2 linked regions of the Homo sapiens genome follow. The protein of the gene in region 2 purifies or fractionates together with the protein of the main gene of each other region. This does not show direct contact. Each region holds a gene or a part of one and is shown on either strand. Other genes may lie near its edges.

Evidence for each region.
Region 1: the proteins of ACSF3 (region 2) and LONP1 purify together in Homo sapiens (co-immunoprecipitation; 2 studies listed by BioGRID and IntAct, with this or other methods). This does not show direct contact.

The regions. Positions count from the first base shown.
Region 1 is NC_000019.10:5,713,784-5,724,418, forward strand, and holds the start of LONP1 (lon protease homolog, mitochondrial isoform 1 precursor), read right to left. Parts: upstream 6,364-10,635; 5' UTR 6,350-6,363; coding exon 5,921-6,349; intron 489-5,920; coding exon 400-488; intron 1-399. Other genes in the region: CATSPERD (cation channel sperm-associated auxiliary subunit delta), read left to right, coding at 6,955-7,025. UniProt on the Homo sapiens protein: ATP-dependent serine protease that mediates the selective degradation of misfolded, unassembled or oxidatively damaged polypeptides as well as certain short-lived regulatory proteins in the mitochondrial matrix.
Region 2 is NC_000016.10:89,135,489-89,145,851, reverse strand, and holds part of ACSF3 (malonate--CoA ligase ACSF3, mitochondrial isoform 1 precursor), read right to left. Parts: intron 9,305-10,363; exon of another isoform or gene 9,023-9,304; intron 4,786-9,022; exon of another isoform or gene 4,576-4,785; intron 639-4,575; exon of another isoform or gene 586-638; coding exon 451-585; intron 1-450. UniProt on the Homo sapiens protein: Catalyzes the initial reaction in intramitochondrial fatty acid synthesis, by activating malonate and methylmalonate, but not acetate, into their respective CoA thioester. May have some preference toward very-long-chain substrates.

The sequences.
Region 1 (10,635 bases), on a different chromosome or scaffold from region 2:
AACTCCTGACCTCAGGTGATCCACATGCCTCAGCCTCCCAAAGTGCTGGGATTACAGGTGTGCGACCCCACGCCCGGCCCATGGAACTCATTTCTACATGGAGCCACATCTCCGAGCAGCTAGCTCGACTTTCAGGTAGCCTCATGGAGCATTTCATCACTAAGAGTCCCTGAAGTTAATTTCCCCCGTATCTTAACAATGCATGAAGTTTAGTACTACAAGCTGAGTTCTCAGCCCAGGCTGAAAAGGTAGCCTGCGTGGCTTCTGGCCTTTATTCTGGAGGTCTTCCCTGGTTTCCTCGGGGTCAGGGGTCAAAGGTGCAAAGTACAGAGTAGGACTTGTGGTGAGCTGGACTCTAGGGCACCGTCAACAAGGGAATGAAGGAAAAATCACACTTACCTGTCATCTCTCTTTAGAAAGACGCCGACATAAGGCTGGGCGAGACGAACTTTCCTTCTCAGCAGCTCAACCAACTTCTTATTTTTAACCTAGCATGACAATGACCCCAAAGTGAAATGCAGAGTAGATTTTTTTTTTGAGACAGAGTCTCATTCTGTTGCCCTGGCTGGAATGTAATGGCGTGATCTCAGCTCACTGCAACCTCCACCCCCACTGAGTTCAAGGGATTCTCCTGCCTCAGCCTCCTGAGTAGCTGGGATTACAGGCATGCACCACCACACCTGGCTAATTTTTTTATTTTTAGTAGAGATGGGGTTTCACCATATTGGCCAGGTTGGTCTCGAACTCCTGACCTCAGGTGATCCACCCACCTCAGCCTCCCAAAATGCCGGGATTATAGGCGTGAGCCACCAAACGCAGCACAGGGTAGCTTTTCTTTTTTTTTTTTTTTTCTGAGACGGAGTCTCGCTCTGTCACCCAGGCTGGAGTGCAGTGGCATGATCTCAGCTCACTGCAACCTCCGCCTCCCGGGATCAAGCAATTCTCTGCCTCAGCCTCCTGAGTAGCTGGGATTACAGGCGCCCGCCACCAGGTCCGGCTGATTGTTTTGTATTTTTAGTAGAGATGGGGTTTCACCATCTTGGCCAGGATGGTCTTTAACTCCTGACCTCGTGATCCACCCACCTCAGCCTCCCAAAGTGCTGGGATTATAGGCGTAAACTACCACGCCCGGCCTCCCAGGGTAGCTTTTGTAGCTGACATTTTTTGACAGCAGAGCCGCTCTAACGCTGTGTAGATTATTCTCTGGGGACATGCTGATCCGCATCCTGGATACTAATCAACATGGTTTGGGAACGCCTAAACAAAAAAAAAAAAAAAAAAAAAAAAGTGCTGGAGGCCAGGAGGCTGTGGTGGTGAATACAGTGAGCAGAACTGACCAGCTGGATTCTTCTTAGCGGTTTCCCCACTCCCAAAGGAAATTCAAAGTAGACGAATGGTCAGAACCCAGAAATTGATTTAACATCCAGCTTCAAAGGGGATGTCCAGGGCAAACTGTCTTGGTTTGAAAATCAAAACCATTCTGCTTTTATTAATGTCAGAATAAACATAAGTAATTTAAATGTGACCCACTCCAGAGATTGATAACTTCCTTTTTTTTTTTTTTTTAATAAAGTTTCAGGCTGGGCGCGGTGGCTCACGCCTGTAATCCCAGCACTTTGGGAGGCCGAGGCGGGCAGATCACAAGGTCAGGAGATCGAGACCATCCTGGCTAACACGGTGAAACCCCGTCTCTACTAAAAATACAAAAATTAGCCGGGCGTGGTGGCGGGCACCTGTAGTCCCAGCTACTCGGGAGGCTGAGGCAGGAGAATGGCGTGAACCCGGGAGGCGGAGCATGCAGTGAGCCAAGATCACGCCACTGCACTCCAGCCTGGGCGACAGAGTGAGACTCTGTCTCATAAAAAAAAAAAAAAAAAAAAAAAAAAAAAAAAAAAAGAAAGTTTCACTCTGCCACCCAGGCTGGAGTGCACTGGTGCAATCTCGGCTCACTGCAACCTCCACCTCCCAGGTTCAAGCGATTCTTCCAACTCATCCTACCACATAGCTGGGGTTACAAGCACACGCCACTGCACTCGCTAATTTTTGTATTATTAGTAGAGACGGAGTTTCGCCATGAGCCACCATGCCTGGTTCCTCCAATTTTCATTGACAGTTACTTCCTTATCACATCATATGCTGTTCATTAATGATCAAGACCCCCAGGATCACAGCACATTCTCAACGGCAGGTTCAGGGCTAATGATGTCTTCTAAGAAGCATTTGAAGGCGCAAGGAGCTCACCTGATTTCTTTCAAGCCTTTGTTAATTCACTGGACAGACCCTGATTAAAGGTAATGGCCTGGCTAGCCTGGTAATGGTAGCTCATGCCTGTAATCCCAGCACTTTGCGGGGCTGAGGTGGGAGGATCGCTTGAGCCCAGGAGTTTGAGACCAGCCTGGGTAACACAGTGAGACCCCATCTCTATTTTCTTTTTGAAGTTTTTAATTCTTTATTATATAATAAAGTTAAAATATACATATATATATATATATATATATATATATATATATATATATAGTAATGGCCCTCAAACTTTTGCAGGCACCAGGATGACCTGAAGGACTTTAAGCAGCTCACTGCTGGGCCCCACCCTTGGAGTTTTTGATTCAGTTCTAGGGTGGGTCCAAAAATCTGCATTTCAAACAAAAGAGCATCACATGATGCCGATGCTGCTGGTCCACAACCATCCTTTGAGAGCCAGTGTTTTGACTCACTCCCTAACACAGGCTCTTAACTTGTGGTCCAGAAATTCCTGACACTATAGATACATAATTTTTTTTTTTTCTGTTCCCAGAAAAAAAAAAGTCAGTAACATCTGACAGGAGGGTGTGTGACCCACTGTTATAAGTAAAATGTTTGTTTAGAGACAGAACGCTTGTACCTCTGTACTGTAAGGAAAAATTAGCATTTGGACAAAAAGTTTTCTTAGCAAGACAATTTTACTTTCTGAAGAAAGGGTGCTCCTCGCAGATGGAACAATGGCGAGAGCAGAGCACACCTGAACAAAGGAGGGAAGCAATTTTTTTTTAAGACAGAGTCTTGCTCTGTCGCCCAGGCTAGAGCGCAGTGGAGCGATCTCAGCTCACTGCAAGCTCCGCCTCCTGGGTTCACACCATTCTCCTGCCTCAGCCTCCCGAGTAGCTGGGACTACGGGCGCCCACCACCACTCCAGGCTAATTTTTTTGTATTTTTAGTAGAGACGGGGTTTCACCTTGTTAGCCAGTATGGTCTCGATCTCCTGACCTCGTGATCCGCCCACCTCAGCCTCCCAAAGTGCTGGGATTGCAGGCGTGAGCCACCGCGCCCAGCCCACGAAGTTAGTTTTTAAAAGAAACTAATACTTCTAACACTTATGATTTATTCTTTAATACCCACCAAAAATTAAGAGCCATTGTTCCTTACTCAAAAGTTGCTAATAGGAGAGAAGCTTCTAGAGCAAGTTGGCCAGACAAGTCAAGTACAAACTGAAGAGTAAATCAAGCTTTGCTAACAATTTCAGAAACATTTATTGGGTCCCAAAGAAGTTGCCTCCCAATTTCCCCTCTGCCAACAGCTGATAGCTGCATCCTTGGCATCTGCCTCCTGGCCTTGGCAGGATCCATTTTTATGATTTACAATGCATCATCAACCAGAAATACAATGAGAACCACCTGCCAGTCTCCCAAATACTATCTGCAGCCACTCATTTAACTCTCCTGGCTAGCTCCACGTGGGCCGTCTGAACTCTCTTAGAAGAATCATCTCTCTGCTCAGGCACCGGGAGCAAGGGGCATCTGTCGCTCTGCAGAACGGAGGGGACCAGGCCTGATGAACACCATCCTGGGCCCAGAAACCTGGGAGGGTAAAGAGAACTGCCAGGGGTGAAGTCAAGGATGGGAAAAAGGCCTCCGGGGCAGAGTCCTGAAATGTCAGAAGTACACCAAAGAGGAAACAGCATCACGTTATTGCTGAGGCAGGGCCTCATTCTGTTGCCCAGGCTGCAGTGCAGTGGTGACACCATGGCTCACTGCAGCCTTGATCTCCCAGTTTCAAGTGATCCTCCTGCCTCAGCCTTCCAAGTAGCTGGGAAGACAGGTGCATGCCACTGTGCCCGGCTTTTCTTTCTTTCTTTTTTTTTTTTTTTTTGTAGAGACAGGGTCTATGTTGACCATACTGGTTTCAAATTATGCTCCTGCCTCAGCCTCCCAAAGTGCTGGGATTAAACATGTGAGACACCGTGCCCAGCCCACATGGCCTCATTTAAATCCCACAACAACTCTAATAAGACACTAATATGTCCAGGTCACAGATGAGAAGAGGGAAGCCAAAGGAATAACTTGCTGAAGGTTATGGAGCTAGGATAGGACCCCACAAGGTCTTGCTCTGGGGGCCTGCATCAGTAACCAGTACTCAACATCAAGGAAAGGCCTTGGGGCCGGGCGCAGTGACTCGCACCTGCAATCCCAGCACTTTGGGAGGCTGAGGCGGGTGAATCACTTGAGGTCAGGAGTTCGAGACGAGCGTGGGCAACATGGTGAAACCCTGTCTCTTCTAAAAATAGAAAAATTAGCCAGCCACGGTGGCGGGCGCCTGTAATCCCAGCTACTCAGGGGGCTGAGGCAGGAGAATCACTTGAACCCGGGAGGCAGAGGTTGCAGTGAGCTGAAATCGCGCCACTGCACTTTAGCCTAGATGACAGAGTGCAACTTGGTCTCAAAAAAAAAAAAAAAAAAATCTTGGAGCAGCGTTGGAGAAGCTCCCTCTGTCCCCTCTCTACTGGCTGCTGCCCCTCTGAAATGGCCTTTCCCTTCCCAACAGATCCTTGAGATTTGTTTAGAAGAGTCTGGAGAGTGAGCGCAGAGGCTGACTCACTGCGTGACCTTGCTCTGCCAGTTAGGAGATAACCTTCCCATAGATGCCACTTTCCACATCAGTAGTTTTTTTTTTTAAGGGAAGGGGAGCTGGGGGAGAAGGCTTTTGGGGCCTTCCTACTGTAAAAGCTCAAGTTCCTTACACTCACTGCTTTCTCTCTATTACATCATCCTGCTCCCTCCCCACCCCCAAGGCTCTTAGTCTGAAATGATCTAATTTCTACCACCGGAATGACTTGTTCTCTACAGTATTCTCAGAACTTGCTACGTGGTAGGAGGTCAAGAACACACTGAATAACCCACCTCTTCCCACCCTCCTAAGCCTCCTGTCCCATCCATGCTCTACTATTTCTCGTAATTATTGCCTTCTAATACAATATCGTTACTAAACATCTTTATTGCCTGTCTCATCCTGCCAAAATGTAAGCTCCAAGGCAGATTTATTTTTTAAGAGACAGGGTCTCGCCATGTTGACCAGGCTGGACTCCAGGTTTCCAACAATCCTTCCACCTCAGCCGCCAGAGTAGCTGGGAGTACAGCGCGCGCCACCATGCCCAGCTTCAAAGGCAGAAATTTTTGTCTGTTTTGTTCACTGCCATATCCCCAGAACCTAGAACACTCTCTGGCAAATAATAAGCAATCAAGAAGTATTTGTCTAAGAAAGGAATGAATTCTGATCCCAGTGAGGCTCGTAACCAGACGGCAGAGCGCCTGGGGCGAGGAGGTATTACAAAACTCGTGCCAAGTAAGGAGAAAACTAACAGCGCCGTAACACTACTCAGGTCCCTCCCGGCCCCGGATTTCTATGACCGGCGTTCTAAAGTGGATAATCCTAGGCTCATCGGGTTCAACTCCTCTCATCTAACGGATCCTAAGAAATCCGAAAGGGAGAGGACTTTGGCTCAAGGTTCCCAAGCTAGTGGTGAGCAGACAAGGATTCGAACTGCACCCTTCGAGAAACTTCATGTCTGAAAAAGTTGCGAAACACAAGGGCGCTCAAGTGATCCCACGGTTCAGCCCGCTGCTTGCACAGGTGGGAAACCTGAGGCCGAGGCGGGGACTCCCATTACCTCGATAATCTTGATAAAGCGCGGGAACACCGGGTTGCGGGTGATGGCGATGAGCGGCAGGTGCGGAAACACATCGGGGATCGTCATGGGCGTGAGCGCCGTTATGACCGGGCCTTCCCCGGCGCCCGCGCTGCCCCCCGCGCCGCCGGCTCCTTCCTCCGCGCCGCCCTCGGAGGCGTCCTCGCCCCCCGAGAATGCGCCTCCGCCGCGGCTGCTCGCTTCCCAAAACCCCCGCCATTGGCCCCCAATTGCCGGGCCTCGGCCCCACAGTGCCCAAGGAGGAGAGGCGTCGCAGGTCCGCTGGCCTCGGAGCAACCACGCTCCTGCTGCAGTGGGAACCCGCCCCCCGGCGGCGGCCAGCATCGGCCGCCGCAGCACCCAGCACCGCGCCGCTCCCCACAGTCGCACGTAGCCAGTGCTCGCCGCCATAGCCCGGCCATACTGGCGGCTCACACAACTCGCGTCATTTCCGCTCGCCGCGAAACGCACGTGACGCCCGGCGCGTGCCTCGGTACCCGATGGGCGCGTGGCTCGAAACAGCCGCTTCAGGGAGCTGGGCCTACGCGGAGAAGAGGGGGCGGAGTTCGAGCATCGGATCGTCTCCGCCTCTTCCGGTCTCCCACTTTATGCGCTGAAGGCCTTTTCCGGTCACGTGGAAGGCTGTGAGCAGGCGCCAGCGCCCGTACAAAACACTGGTAGTGTTGCAAACGCAACGTTTAGGAACTCATGAGCAGCCTGTGCACATGCTTAGGCGCGCGGACAACATGCGCATGCTCAGACTCTAGACTGGCCACGGGTGGCCGGGTGCGCATACTCAGGCTCTGAGCGCACTTTGGGGTGCGCGGATTCGGGCTTCCCGGGATTCGTCTGCGCATGCTCAAGATTCAGGCGGAGCGCCGGGCTGCAGTGCGCGGAGGCCCGCTCCCGGGACTCATTGATGCGCATGCGCAGGGCTTCAGCCTGCACGTACTCGGATTGTGCAGCGACTCCCCGTGGCGGTTGAGGGGCAGTGGTGGCGGCGGAAGCCCAAGTCGATGCTGATGTTGATGCTGGTGGCGGCTGTGACCATGTGGCTCCGACCGCTGGTCACAGCTCAGCTCTGTCGGTGGGGCTGCCAGGACTCCTGGGGCTGGGGTGCTGCCGGGGGTCGGGAGGGTGCTGGTTCATCTTGGAGCCGAGGCCTGCTCCCCAACCTCACTGAGGCTCCCCTTTTACTCTTTTTAGGAATCGAACTTGACGCCTCGCTCACCCTACTCCACCCCATCCTCCCAGCCCGATATTAAGCTCTCCTACCTCTTTTTTTTTTTTTTTTTGAGACGGAGTCTCGCTCTGTCGCCCAGGCTGCAGTGCAGTGGCGCGATCTCGGCTCACTGCAAGCTCCGCCTCCCGGATTCACGCCATTCTCCTGCCTCAGCCTCCTGAGTAGCTGGGACTACAGGCGCCTGCCACCACGCCCGGCTAATTTTTTTTTGTATTTTTAGTAAAGACGGGGGTTTCACCGTATTAGCCAGGATGGTCCCGATCTCCTGACCTCGTGACCCGCCTGCCTCGGCCTCCCAAAGTGCTGGGATTACAGGCGTGAGCCACCACGCCGGGCCTAGCCCTCCCACTTCTTTTTCTTTTTGGAGCCGGAGTTTTTGCTCTGTTTCCCAGGGTGGAGTGCAGTGGCGCGATCTCTGCTCACTGCAACCCCCGCCTCCCAAAGTGCTGGGATTGCAGGCGTGAGCCACCGCGCCCAGCCTTACCCAGCACATTTTGAAATTTCAGTAAATGTTAGGTTAGTGCATACTCCAACCTGCCATGGGGACCAGTTGCTGAAACTCCGTTCCTGCCCTCAGGGAACTCCCATCTGGACTAAACTGTCACATTCAGTAGGGACCTGTGAGCTGTATTCTTAGGGTGTATGGCCTCATTTGATGTTTACAGGAAGATTCATAATGATTCCTTAACCTTATTTTATTTTATTTATTATTATTTTTTGTACAGATGGGGTCTCACTGGCTGGGTGCAGTGGCTCACGCCTGTAATCCCAACACTTTGAGAGGTAGAGGTGGGCAGATCACTCACTTGAGGTCAAGAGTTCCAGACCAGCCTGGCCAACATGATGAAACCTCGTCTCTACTAAAAATACAAAAATTAGCCAGGCTTGGTGGCAGGTGCCTGTAATCCCAGCTACTTGGGAGGCTGAGGCAGAAAAATCGCTTGAATTCAGGAGGTGGAGGTTGCAGTGAGCTGAGATCGCACTCCAGCCTGGGTGACAAAGGGAGACTCTGTCTCAAAGGAAAAAAAAAAAAAAAGAGATGGGGTCTCACTGTTTTGCCCAGGCTGGTCTTGAACTCCTAGGCTCCAGTGATCCTCCTGCCTCAGCCTCCCAAAGTGTTGGGATTACAGGCATGAGCCACCCATGCCCAGCCATACCCTTATTTTATTTTTTTGAGATGGAGTCTTGTTCTCGTCGCCCAGGCTGGAGTACAATGTCACGGTCTCGGCTCACTGCAACCTCCGCCTCCCAAGTTCAAGCAATTCTCCTGCCTCAGCCTCCAGAGTAGTTGGGATTATGGGCGCCTGCCACCACGTGCAGCTAATTTTTTGTGTTTTTAGTAGAGACAGGGTTCCACCATGTTGCCCAGGTTGGTCTCGAACTCCTGACCTCGTGATTCACTTGCCTCGGCCTCCCAACGTGCTGGGCTTACAGGCGTGTGCCACCGCGCCCGGCCAACACCCTTATTTTATAGATACGAAAGCATACTTAGGAAAGTTAAAGACACACTTGCCTAACAACACATACCTAGTAAGTGGGAGAAACATTTTCCAGTGAAATTTACTAATAGGATTTGTCTCGAGTTCTGAAAATGTGGGTTATATCCAGTTCTCTCATTTCCCCACACAGGCTCTCAAAGAATGGTCCCTGGACCAGCAGCATCAAGATCACCTGGAATTTATTATAATTGGTTAGAAATGCAGTTCCCTGGACCTACTGAGTCGGGGACTTGGCAGTGGGACCCAGCAAACGGTGGTTTATCAAGACCCCCCCCCCCGCAACCCCGGTGATTCTGATGCATATTCAAGATTGAGCACCTCTGCTGTAAACTATACCATCCTTCCAGTCACCACACACTCCCTTAAGGAGCCCCGAATACCTTGTTGCAGGACTTCATAATTTTCCTCAGCTGGGGTCTGTGAAGGAGCCTTTAGAAATTCTTGGCCGGGCGCGGGGGCTCACGCCTGTAATCCCAGCACTTTGGGAGGTGGAGGCGGGCGGATCACGAGGTCAGGAGATCGAGACCATCCTGGCTAACACGGTGAAACCTCGTCTCTACCAAAAATACAAAAAATTAGTCGGTGTGGTGGCGGGCGCTTGTAGTCCCAGCTACTCGGGAGGCTGAGGCAGGAGAATGGCGTGAACCCGGGAGGTGGAGCTTGCAGTGAGCTGAGATCGCGCCACTGCACTCCAGCCTGGGCGACGGAGCGAGATTCTGTCTCAAAAAAAAAAAAAAGAAAAAGAAAAAGAAAAAAGAAATTTTCAGAAATCATTTCTACATTTTGTGTGTACTTATGTCTGTTTCTGGGAGAGGAGTTTCATACAAATTTTATTTTTTGACGGAGGCTTGCTCTGTCGCCCAGGCTGGAGTGCAGTGTGGCAAGAGCTCAACTCACTGCAACCTCTGCCTCCAAGGTTCAAGCGATTCTAGTGCCTCAGCCCTCAGCCTCCTGAGTATCTGGGATAACAGGCGCCCGCCACCCTGCCCAGCTAATTTTTTTTTTTTTTTTTTTTTTTTGAGACGGAGTCTCGCTCTGTTGCCCAGGCTGGAGTGCAATGGCGCCATCTCGGCTCACTGCAAGCTCTGCCTTCTGGGTTCACACCATTCTCCTGCCTCAGCCTCCCGAGTAGCTGGGACTACAGGTGCCGCAACCACGCCCGGCTAATTTTTTTGTGTTTTTAGTAGAGACGGGGTTTCACCGTGTTAGCCAGGATGGTCTCGATCTCCTGACTTCGTGATCCACCCGCCTCGGCCTCCTAAAGTGCTGGGATTAACAGGCGTGAGCCACCACACCTAGCCTGTTTTGTTTTGTTTTTGTTTTTTTTTTTGAGATGGAGTTTCACTCTTGTTGCCCGGGCTGGAGTGCAATGGTGCAATCTCAGCTCACCATAACCTCCGCCTCCCGGGTTCAAGCGATTCTCCTGCCTCAGCCTCCTGAGTAGCTGGGATTACAGGCATGCGCCACCACACGCTAATTTTGTATATTACAGGCTAATTTTGTATATTTAGTAGAGACAGGGTTTCTCCGTGTTGCTCAGGCTGGTCTCGAAGTCCCAACCTCAGGTGATCCACCCGCTTTGGCCTCCCAAAGTGCTGGGATTACAGGTGTGAGCCACCGTGCCTAACTTTTTTGTATTTTTAGTAGAGACGAGATTTCACGATGTTGGCCAGGCTGATCTCGAACTCCTGACCTCAGCTGATCCACCCACCTTGACCTCCCAAAGCGCTGGGATTACAGGTGTGAGCCACCGCACCTGGCTCTAATTTTCGTATTTTCAGTAGAGATGGGGTTTCACCAAGTTGGCCAGGTTGGTCTTGAACTGCTGACCTCAAGTGATCCACCTGCCTCGGCCTCCCAAAGTGCTGGGATTAAAGACATAAGCCACCACGCCCAGCCTCATCCAATTTTCTAGGGCCTCCTATAACCCGAAAAGCATCAGGAACAGATACTTG
Region 2 (10,363 bases):
CAGTCTGGCCGCAGCCCTGGAGCCCGTCCTTGGACAGGCCCCACTCCAATCACTCGTCCTGGTGCTGGCTGGGCCTGTGGGGAGGGGAGTGAGGACGGGCTCCCCACGGTGGATCTGGGGACTGGGCACTCACAGGGGCTCTGCCTTCCCGCCCCTTGGCTCTCTGCACTCTCCCTGCCACCTTCCTGCAGGGGAATCATGCAGATGGGAGCTGCGCCCGGCCAGGCCTGGGAGCTCTGGTGGGCACGGGGTCAGTGGCTCCAACACCGAGCAGGCTGCACCCCCACTAGCCCCATGTTCCCTGGCCAGGGCAGGGACCAGAGGTGAGCATCACAGGGACCCCTGCAGGCAGCTGGGACGGCGTCGACTCATCTGCAGTCGTCTAAAACTCAAACATGGAAGGCAGCACCCGTCTAGCCTGGCCTCCCTGGCCCAAGTCCGGCCACGCACCTGTGATGCTGGGGTGGGCCAGCAGGTGCCACTCCACCTCCAGGGCGCTGACCTTGTAGCCTCCAGTCTTGATGATGTCCACTGAGGTCCGGCCTCGGATCCAGTACTGGCCATCCTTAAACACCACGGTGTCCCCTGAGGAAAAGGGGCTCTGGTTAACTGGCCATCCTTAAACACCACGGTGTCCCCTGAGGAAAAGGGGCTCTGGTTAACTGGCCGTCCTTAAACACCACGGTGTCCTCTGAGGAAAGGGGGCTCTGGTTACTACCCTGTGGCAACCCCAACGGAGAAACAGCTATGCCAGGTAAGCCCACATTCCTGGTGGTCACGACGTGCGTCCCAAGGTGGGACTGTGCCCATGATGTGGGGTCTGCCCTTCCTGTGGGGTCCCTTCCCCATGCTCAGCTGTATGCACTTCCTCCAGGGGCAGGTCAGCAGTGGGTCCAGAGCCTGCCAGGAGCAGGAGGTGCCAGAAGCCCTGCTGGGCCTGTGGTCTGCAGACACCCTGCATTAGGAAGCCGGCTCAGGCCCTGTTTCTGTGACAGTGATTGATAACCACTGGCCATGGGTGGGATGCGTGGCCTTTTCTGAGCAACAAGCACAGGGTCTGATGCTTTACCCTCCCTCAGGATGGGTGCCAGGGTGTGCTGGGCCTCCTGGCTGTGCTGCTACTGCTGCAAGGGCCCCCAGACGGAGCCCCTGGGACTGCAGCATAGAGGGGCCGCCCCTCATGCAGGCAGGCTGCTCTGGGAGAGGGGCCGAGGCCCACCAGGCCCTGTCCTGCCATTTCTCTCAGGCCCACAAAAGAATCCAGGCCAAATATTCAGTAAAAGAAGTGAACCAGACACATTACAACATCCCACCACGGTGGGCTCCAGCAGTGAATGCCCAGCCCCTCTGGATGGGAGAGGCACCAAGGCCCACGCAGAGGCCACAGGGAGGGGCTGGTGGCTGAGGAGGACAGGGCCTTTCCTGGGTGCCTGGAGCCTCCTGCTGGTGCCCATCTTGTGCCCTCCACACCTGACCATGCTGGTCCTAGAACAATGGCCGGGGCTGCCCCACGTTTTCCTTCCTAAGGCAAAGCCACGACGTGGCCCTTGCTCCTCCCCGTGCAGTTCCTGGAGCTCCTGTGGGAACCAAGCTTCCTTCGTTTTCTTCCTTTCTCGAGTAGCTCAACACAGACACCACCAGCCACTGAGGGTGGGGAGTCGGGAAGAGCGGGCTGCAGCCTCAGAGCCTGTACTCCCAGCCCGAAGCTGTCTCATGACGCATGGGCCCATAGTGTGCGTGCCTGCGAGCGTGTGTGCAGCTGGGAGGGCGCGGTATGCGTGACTGTGAGCATGTGCACGCACACATGTGTGCCGTGGCTGTGGGAGCATGCAGGGCATGTAAGGGCAGTGCTGAGGCCTCAACTGTCTGCTTCCACATACCCTGCACTCCACATGGGTTATTAGCTGGAATAAATCATAAATACTTCATTATACATCATGCTGTTGGACGCAGAAAGGCCCCATCCATCCACCTCACCACTCCTTGAGACCCATGGCGTGCTCCTCAGTCTATTAAACAAGACGGATGGGTGTGCCCAGGTGGGCTCCAGGCTTATTTATGGAGCTCTGGAACTCTGGAACTCTGTGCTGATGGGTAGCAGAAAAACCAGAGGCTCCCCGACAGGAGAGTGGTCTCACTGCGCCCCTGGGGTAGTCTGGGCGGCTGGAAGGGGGTGTGCAGGTTGGGCTGTGGGCGGGGTTGGACACAGCCTGTCCCAAGTCCCGTGGGACCCGCCATGGCTCCTGCTCCTGCTGTGCAGCCTGGCTTGTGTGTCCCCTCTGGACCAGACAGCCACCAATCTTCCAATAGCATCTCTTAATCGCACCGAGCCACCCCGTCCAGGCTGCTCCTGCCCCACGGATGCCACAGCTGCTGACACCAGGGAGGCTGCCAGGTGCTCAGGGCCCTCCATACAGCTTCTGGCCTGGCTCCACCCTGGCCTGCACCACCCAGAGACCCAGCGCAGCATGGAGCCACTGCCCTGCTCTGGTCCTGCCGGAGAGGCCATCACTGCCTGCCCCCAAGGCTGACAAGTCCCCGGCACCCTCTTGAGCTGCCTGTGTCCTGGCTCCAAGGATGCACCACAGTTACTCACGGGGCTGAGGCTGCACCACAGCTACGCACGGGGCTGAGACTGCACCAAAGCTACGCACGGCACTGAGGATGTACCACCGTTACACACCAGGCTGATGCTGGGAGAAACTGGGGGGACGGCACAAGGAACCCCTGTGTGTTATTTCTAATTTCCTGCGAATCTTTTTTATAAGTTTTAAAATGTTGCTTTTTGGTTTATGGAGCAATTTTCTTCCCCATCTCCAGCAGCACCAGCCCCGAGTGGGCTCATGACATGGTGAGTCACGCCAACGTCGGCAATGGATTATGATCGCGCAATAACTTGTTAAAGAACAAACTCACATGAGCTTAATTTATGAATACAAGGAATGAGTGCCCTTCACAGGAGAGGCCCATCAATGGCTGATTAGATGCAAGACCCAACCTCTCCGCCCACTGCGAGACCCCGTCTCCTTAGGTGTGGGTGTGTCTGCAGGTGTGGGTGTGTCTGCAGGTGTGGGTGTCTCTGTAGGTGTGGGTGTGTCTCTGCAGGTGTGGGTGTGTCTATAGGTGTGGCTGTGTCTCTGCAGGTGTGCCTGTATCTCTGCAGGTGAGGGTGTCTCTGCAGGTGTGGCTCTGTCTGCAGGTGTGGGTGTGCCTGCAGGTGTAGGTGTCTGCAGGTGTGGGTGTGTCTGCAGGTGTGGCTGTGTCTCTGCAGGTGTGGGTGTGTCTGCAGGTGTGGGTGTGTCTGCAGGTGTGGGTGTGTCTGCAGGTGTGGGTATGTCTCTGCAGGCGTGGCTGTGTCTCTGCAGATGTGTTATATCTCAGCAGGTGTGGGTGTGTATCCCCAGAGGTCGAAGCCCTGGTGCTGAGATCTCCCAGGAGTGGTGGCACTGAGTATCTGCCCATCCTCTCTGGCTCTGGGCTGTTTCTGGCATGGTCAGGCCCTGAGACCCTGCTGTAGGCCTTGTTTGGGGGTCTCTCCCTGCCTGGGCCTGGCTGCCTCTGCCCCGAGATGCTTCTTCCAGAGCCAGTGCTCAGGAAGGACTGGTGGGGGCAGCTTGGGGAGTTGTCCATTCCCTGGGCCCCAGGCCCCAAATCCCTGCTTCTCAGTGATAGCCCTGCCTGGCCTCCAACCCCAGGGTCGTCACAGGCCCCAGCTGCCTGCTGTGCTGCACGCACGGTTTCCACTGAGCCATGCGGAGGGAAGAACCGTAGGGGTCGGCGCGCAACATGGTGCCATTCCCAGGGCCCCAGGCTTCTGTGCCGGAGAAAGTGGCAGCTATACCTGTCGGAAAAAGGCTGTGTCTGAGACTCCCCCAGCAGCACTGGGCGAAGCCAATCAGTGCAGGACTGAGACCTGTCTCTGTGATGGACGCCTGTCTCGGGGATGATTCTGAGAGGTGCTTCTGTGCCCAGAACTTGTGCGTGGCATGAGGGGACCCTCAGTGCTCAGAGCACGTGTGTGGCGTGCAGGGCCCTCAGTGCATGGTGGCAGTCGTGTGTCCTTCCCACCCTGGGCATCAGAAGGTGGTGCCGCTCTCAGCCCAGCCAGCACCACAGGGCCGGCTCCCCACTCCAGTGTCAGAATCCCCATCCTCACTGCTGCCTGGAGCTCCTTCCAGGGGTAGGGAGAGACTTCCCACTGCCCACAGAGGAAAGCCCAAGTCCCACATGCGTCTCCCGGGCCTGGATGCCTTTGCCCGGACGCCTTGGCCTGGACGTTCCTGGCATCTTCCTGGCAAAGGCCCCCTCTAGGCCGGGGCCCTCCAGGGTCCATCCTGCTGCACAAACATGGCCCCTCTGCCCCAGTACCCCTGCTCCACCTCCTCTGGCCAGTGTCTTGTCTGCAAGGCCTGGGCACCCCCACCCAAAGGGGCGGCCCCGCTGCTTCCCTCCCAGCCCTGAGCTTGCCCCTTGGAACATGTCAGGCTTTGTTCTAGCTTCTCAGCACAGAGCAGTCTCAGCTCCGAGGGTCGACATCTCCCTGCCCATTCCCAGACTACTCAGCGCCCGCCTCACCCGCCTTGCTGTGCCTTTGCCAAGGGGAAAAGTGGCTGGTTTTGTTCTTCCAGGCTGGGACGCTGCTATCAAGGGCTCAGAGGCATCGGAGCCAGGGTTTAAACAAAGTCTCAGCCAAGCAAGAGCGGGTCGGACACCCCGCGGGAGGAGGTCCTGCGGCAGCGAGGGCGACTCAGAAGGTTCAGAGGGCTCCAGGGCAACTTGCGATCACTGTGAAATGCAAGTCAAACAAGTTAAATAACCTTTACTTTCCATAACAACCTATTTATCAAAATGCATCGATTCTGGAATCGGAGTCGGCTGCCAATGGGCTGTGTATGTCCTCGGCCTGATGTGTTCATTAAAGGAGTTTTCTTCTGACAGATACAATGTAGCAATCAATAAACTCCTATTACCTGGATTTATGAGCTGCTTTTGAATTTGGTGCTATTTCATGTCTCTGCCTTCCACTGTAACTGAAAATAAATCTTCCAATACTCAGATTTGAATTCTCTAGAGTGTAGGTGGAGTGAGGTGCTGTGGTCCCCAGTCCCCCAGCGAGAACTTGTCTGTGGGCCTCGGAGGAAGCACTCCTGGCCGGGGGGATGTCCTGACCCGCACGCAAGATAAGAACAGCGCCTGTTCTGCTGTGCAGATGTGGTTCCCGAGCCTGGATCTGGAGTGACACCAGCACCCAAAGCGCGATCCCAGGAAACAAGGTGAAGAGAGGCCCAGACCCAGCCTGTCGGACTTTTGCTCCCAAATGGCACTGATGCCAGCAACAGAATGTGAAGCTTGGCCCCAGTCCTTGAGGAAAGTGCCGAGGGAAGCCCAAGGCCCTGCCCAAGGACCCCGCCCAAGCCGATGCCCTGAGATCTCTGCCCCCAAGTTCTCAGCCTCCAAGCCTGGAACAGGTGCCCGTGTGTGTGTACAGAGAGGCCAAGCCTGGAACAGGTGCCTGTGTGTGTACAGAGGCAGCTGGAAACCAAGTTACGTGAAAGCCTCCACCAGTTACCCCGGGGCACCTGGCCAGGGGAGGTGGCTGCAGGGAGGACAGACTGAGGCTCAGAGGGGCAGTGGGGAAGGCGGCCTCCATTGCGGCCAGGCACAGGCCACCGCCCAGCAGGAGGGAAGGTGCTGGAAGCTCAGGTGCCCGTGGACACTGGAGGCTTCTGCACCTGGACCCCAGTGCCATCCAGGTCTCCTCTGTGGGCCAAGGGTGAAAGAGGCTTCTTGAAGGCAGAGGGAGTCCCAGTGACGGCCTGAGACCCAACTCCCTGACCTGGGCTCAGCGCTCACCCGGCAGCTCCGTGACCTTGGCTCCGTCCTCAGCTGGTGGCTCCTCAACCTGGGCTCAGGGGTCTGGGGACAGAGGACACCCTGTACGTTAAAAAGAGGGGGTCATGGTTGGGTGCGGTGGCTCATGCCTGTAATTCCAGCACTTTGGGACGCTGAGGTGGGGAGATCACGAGGTCAGGAGATCGAGACCATCCTGGCCAACATGGTGAAACCCCGTCTCTACTAAAAATACAAAAATCAGCCAGGTGTGGTGGTGGGCGCCTGTAATCCCAGCTACTCTCGGGAGGCTGAAGCAGGAGAATTGCTTGAACCCGGAAGGCGGAGGTTGCACTGAGCCGAGATGGCGCCACTGCACTCCAGTCTGGCGACAGAGCAAGACTCTGTCTCGAAAAAAAAAAAAAAAAAAACAGAAAAAAAAAGGAGGGGGTCACCAAGTGCCAGGATTCAGCACGGCTGTGGCAGCAGCAAATCTGAAGGCCAGAAAATGATAGAGAAGCGACTTCTAACCCTGAACCCTATACGCAGCCAAACCGACAAGCAAGGCTGAGGGCAGAACGAAGACCCGGAGAGACACGCAAGTCTCCAAGTACGGACCCTACACACCCGCCTCAGGAAGCCCCAGGGGAAAGCAGTCCCCACAGCTGGGGGCGGAAGAGGGAAGACGAGGATGCTGTGGGCTGGGAGCCGACGTCCTGACCCGGTAGGAGGGAAGGGGTGGTGGTGATGGGGAAGGAGGCGCCATGGGGAGACCAGCCCAGCCCACGAGGAATTGGCACCAGGAGACCAAGAAAACCAAGACTTTCCCGACTCTGGAAAACAAAGAAAGAGGAAAAACCTCAGTGTCTCCTGGGCTCAGTTCTCAGCGGCGACTCCATAGTCTCAATAGTGCAGATGCCATACGGGACTGAGCCGGGCCGTGCCTGAGGAGGGGCCTCCTCTGCGGGACTCAAGCCATGGCAGCAAAAAGGAGCCTGGAGGTGGCGGTGCTGGCGGCCCTCGGGATGCGGGGACCGCACAGAAGCAGCAGCCGGCGAGTCTGGGGAAGGGGCACGGCTGTGATTCTTCTTCTCAAACTGCTACAACTACTTGGGTGTTTAAGCCACAGGTGTGTAACTTTGGCTTAAAAATAAAAATGTAAAAACACTCAGCCTCTGCCCAGAGTCCTCATGTGTTTTCTAGGGAACCCAGGCTAAGACACATCTGAAGACCATGGCCGCCTCGTGGGCCTGGTGGCCCTGCAGGCTGCACAGAAGGGCATCTTGCAGGAGGGCTGGGGCACCCTCCTCAGCATGGCCCATCAGTCAGCTTGGCACCTGCAGGCAGCAAAACATGGTCCCTCTCAGGAGCTGTCAGCGTGGACATATGGCTCTGAGAAGGGAAGAGAGGGGCTTCACAGCACAGCCTGGCTGAGCGTGGCAGGCCCAGCGAGGTCCCTCTGCCGGATGAAAGGGGCTGGGGCAAGCATGGCCATTTCGGCACCTGTCATCCCCGCGATCGGCTCTGACCTTGGTCGGCACCCTTGGCGCAGAGGCTGGCACCAGCCAGACGAGCCTTGGTTGGGTCTTGGGGCCCCACCAGGAGGCCTGTGTTCCTTCCCTTGCCCCACAGAGATGCCCAGTGTCCTGTGAAGGCAGCATGGCCAGGAGGGTTTTGGTCAATGAGACAAAGGCCCCAGGGCTTCTGAAAAGGTCCCTCCCCTGGACGAGGGGACAGCTACAGGAACAGCCCAGGTGCCCCCACCTGACCTCAAATGTGCCATCAGGCCTGGGGCTCAGCGTCCACCTCGTTACCACAGGGAGAGGCTGTGGGAGGCTGAGAGGCTGTGGGCCGGGACCACGACACTGCCGGTCCCCACTTGGCCTCCACAGTGCCTGCCGGGGAGCTCTGGCGCCACAGGGAATCCCCGGCGGCTGGGGCTGCTGTCCCTCTGATTTTCGCTTCTTGAGGCCAGTGAGTCCCAACTAAGTCACAAGGTCCCTTTAACCCTTTGCCACTGGCCCAGATGTAAGAACCCAACGGCTGAGACCCAGAGGGTTCTGGGGTGCCCAGGGACACATGGAGCCCCAGCTGGGCCCTGGAAGCAGCGGACTCTTGCTCCTACCCCAACACGCCTCAGACAGGGTGACAAGTAAGCTAGTGCCCGGCAGTGGTGCCCATGAGCACGTGGAGGGCCTGGGAGGCTGGGCTGATGTTCAACCTTGGGGGATGGGGCCACCTGGGCCCAGCTCCCTTCTCGCTCCGAGCAGAATTTCTCAGTCTGGGGGTTCTCCAGCCCCCCACTCCCCTCTCCCCATCCTTCCCTGTGAGCTCCTGGTGGTCCTCCTGGGACCTGGGGCTCTTCCCCTCAGTCCTTCCCCGTGAGCTCCTGGTGGTCCTCCCGGGACCTGGGGCTCTTCCCCTCAATCCTTCCCCACGAGCTCCTGGTGGTCCTCCCGAGACCTGGGGCTCTTCCCCTCAATCTTTCCCCGTGAGCTCCTGGTGGTCCTCCCGAGACCTGGGGCTCTTCCCCTCAATCTTTCCCCGTGAGCTCCTGGTGGTCCTCCCGAGACCTGGGGCTCTTCCCCTCAATCCTTCCCCGTGAGCTCCTGGTGGTCCTCCCGGGACCTGGGGCTCTTCCCCTCAATCCTTCCCCGTGAGCTCCTGGTGGTCCTCCCGAGACCCGGGGCTCTTCCCCTCAATCCTTCCCCGTGAGCTCCTGGTGGTCCTCCCGAGACCTGGGGCTCTTCCCCTCAGTCCTTCCCCACAAGCTCCTGGTGGTCCTCCCGGGATCCCTGGCTCTTCTCTAAGGAGTTCGGTTATCAGGTTTCCTCACCCGGCTGGAGCCTAAGACGCCATTCACCCCTGCAGGGATGCCGCCCTGCCCTACCGCCCCTCTCCTGACCCCTGGATGCCCCCAGGAGGGGCTGCTGCTGCTGCTGCTCCCGCATCTGCCCGGCAGAGGTGCCCACCTCCACGTCACCTTCCACTCGCCCCAGGTGGCAAATGTGCGCGTGTGTCTCTGAGCGAGGGCACGTGGAGTCAGAGCATCTGCAGAGATCATTGTGGCCGTCAGAGGAGTTACCTGAGACAGACCTTTGACGTCTGAAGACATCGTTGTGGCCGTCAGAGGAGTTACCTGAGACAGACCTTTGACGTCTGAAGACATCGTTGTGGCCGTCAGAGGAGTTACCTGAAACAGACCTTTGCCATCTCCTTGAGCAGCAGCGGAGACCCCTGGCCTCACAAGCCCGCTGTGTGATCTTGAGGCAGAAGCGGGCTGTAGGCACAGAGGCAGGTGGGGGAGGCAGGAGCGGCTGGCATCAAAGCTGGCAACCTCTCCTCTCATCCTGACCCGGAGGAGGCCGTTGGGGAGCTGCAGGCCGGCCTCGGCCATCCTCAGCTGTGTCCAGCCATCCCTGGCTGTCCCCTGTGCCCGCCGGCTTATGCCAGAATCCGTGTGGCAGGAGGGGCTGGCCAGGGAAAGGGTTAAGTTTAATTTCTCCTGATTTCTATTTAATATCATGCTCTCCCGGCAGGAGCGGCAGCTGTGAGCTGATTGCAGGCTCTCATTATGCAGCAGCATCGCTAATGGCCTGTGACAAAGACATGCGGCTTCCAGGCCTTACCCCCGAGAGCCAATTAAACACACATACTCCCTTCCTGTTTGCAGCACATTACAATGAAATTAAACTGAATTTCAAAATCATTTTCTACTAAAGACATCTCTGTACAATAATTAATGCATGTGATTCCGCCCCGGCTGAAACATGCCTCAGCACTGGCGACTGCGAGTGTTTCCACGCTCGCAGCCCCGCATCTCACACGGCTGCCCTCCCAGCGGCTCCGGGAGCCCCGCGACTCGCAAAATCCACAGGGCTGTGGTTCCTGTGCTTTCAAAGAAGAAAACGTCTTCAGCTTTTACCTGAATTTAAAAATACAAGAACCGGCCAGACGCAGTGGCTGACGCCTGCAATCCCAGCACTGTGGGAGGCCGAGGCGGGCGGATCACCTGAGGCCAGGAGCTCGAGACCAGCCTGGCCAACATGGCAAAACCCTGTCTTTACTAAAAATACAAAAATTAGCCGGGCGTGGTGGCGGGCGCCTGTAATCCCAGCTACTTGGGAGGCTGAGGCAGGAGAATTGCTTGAACCCGAGAGGCAGAGGTTGCAGTGAGCTGAGATCGTGCCACTGCACTGCAGACTGGGCGACAGAGCGAGACTCCGTCTCAAAAATAACTAACTAAATAAATAAAACAACTGCAGCGTGAGTCGGATTGGGGTCGGGGCATTCAGAGGGCACTGGAGGGATGCTCAGAGCAAGACCTGCTCAAGTCCGGTTCCTGTAATTCTGCATTTGAAGGGAAGTCATGGACAGGCTGTTTCCCCAGATCAGCATGCGCTAATGGGGATGTATAAAAAAGATAAATTGGGAGGGAGTGTTTGATGTGCTGACCACGTCCTGTCACAGAGAGGCTTCTAGGGCCCCAGCCCTGGGTCCTCTGCTGATGTCCAGCCCACGAAGGTGCCTCCCA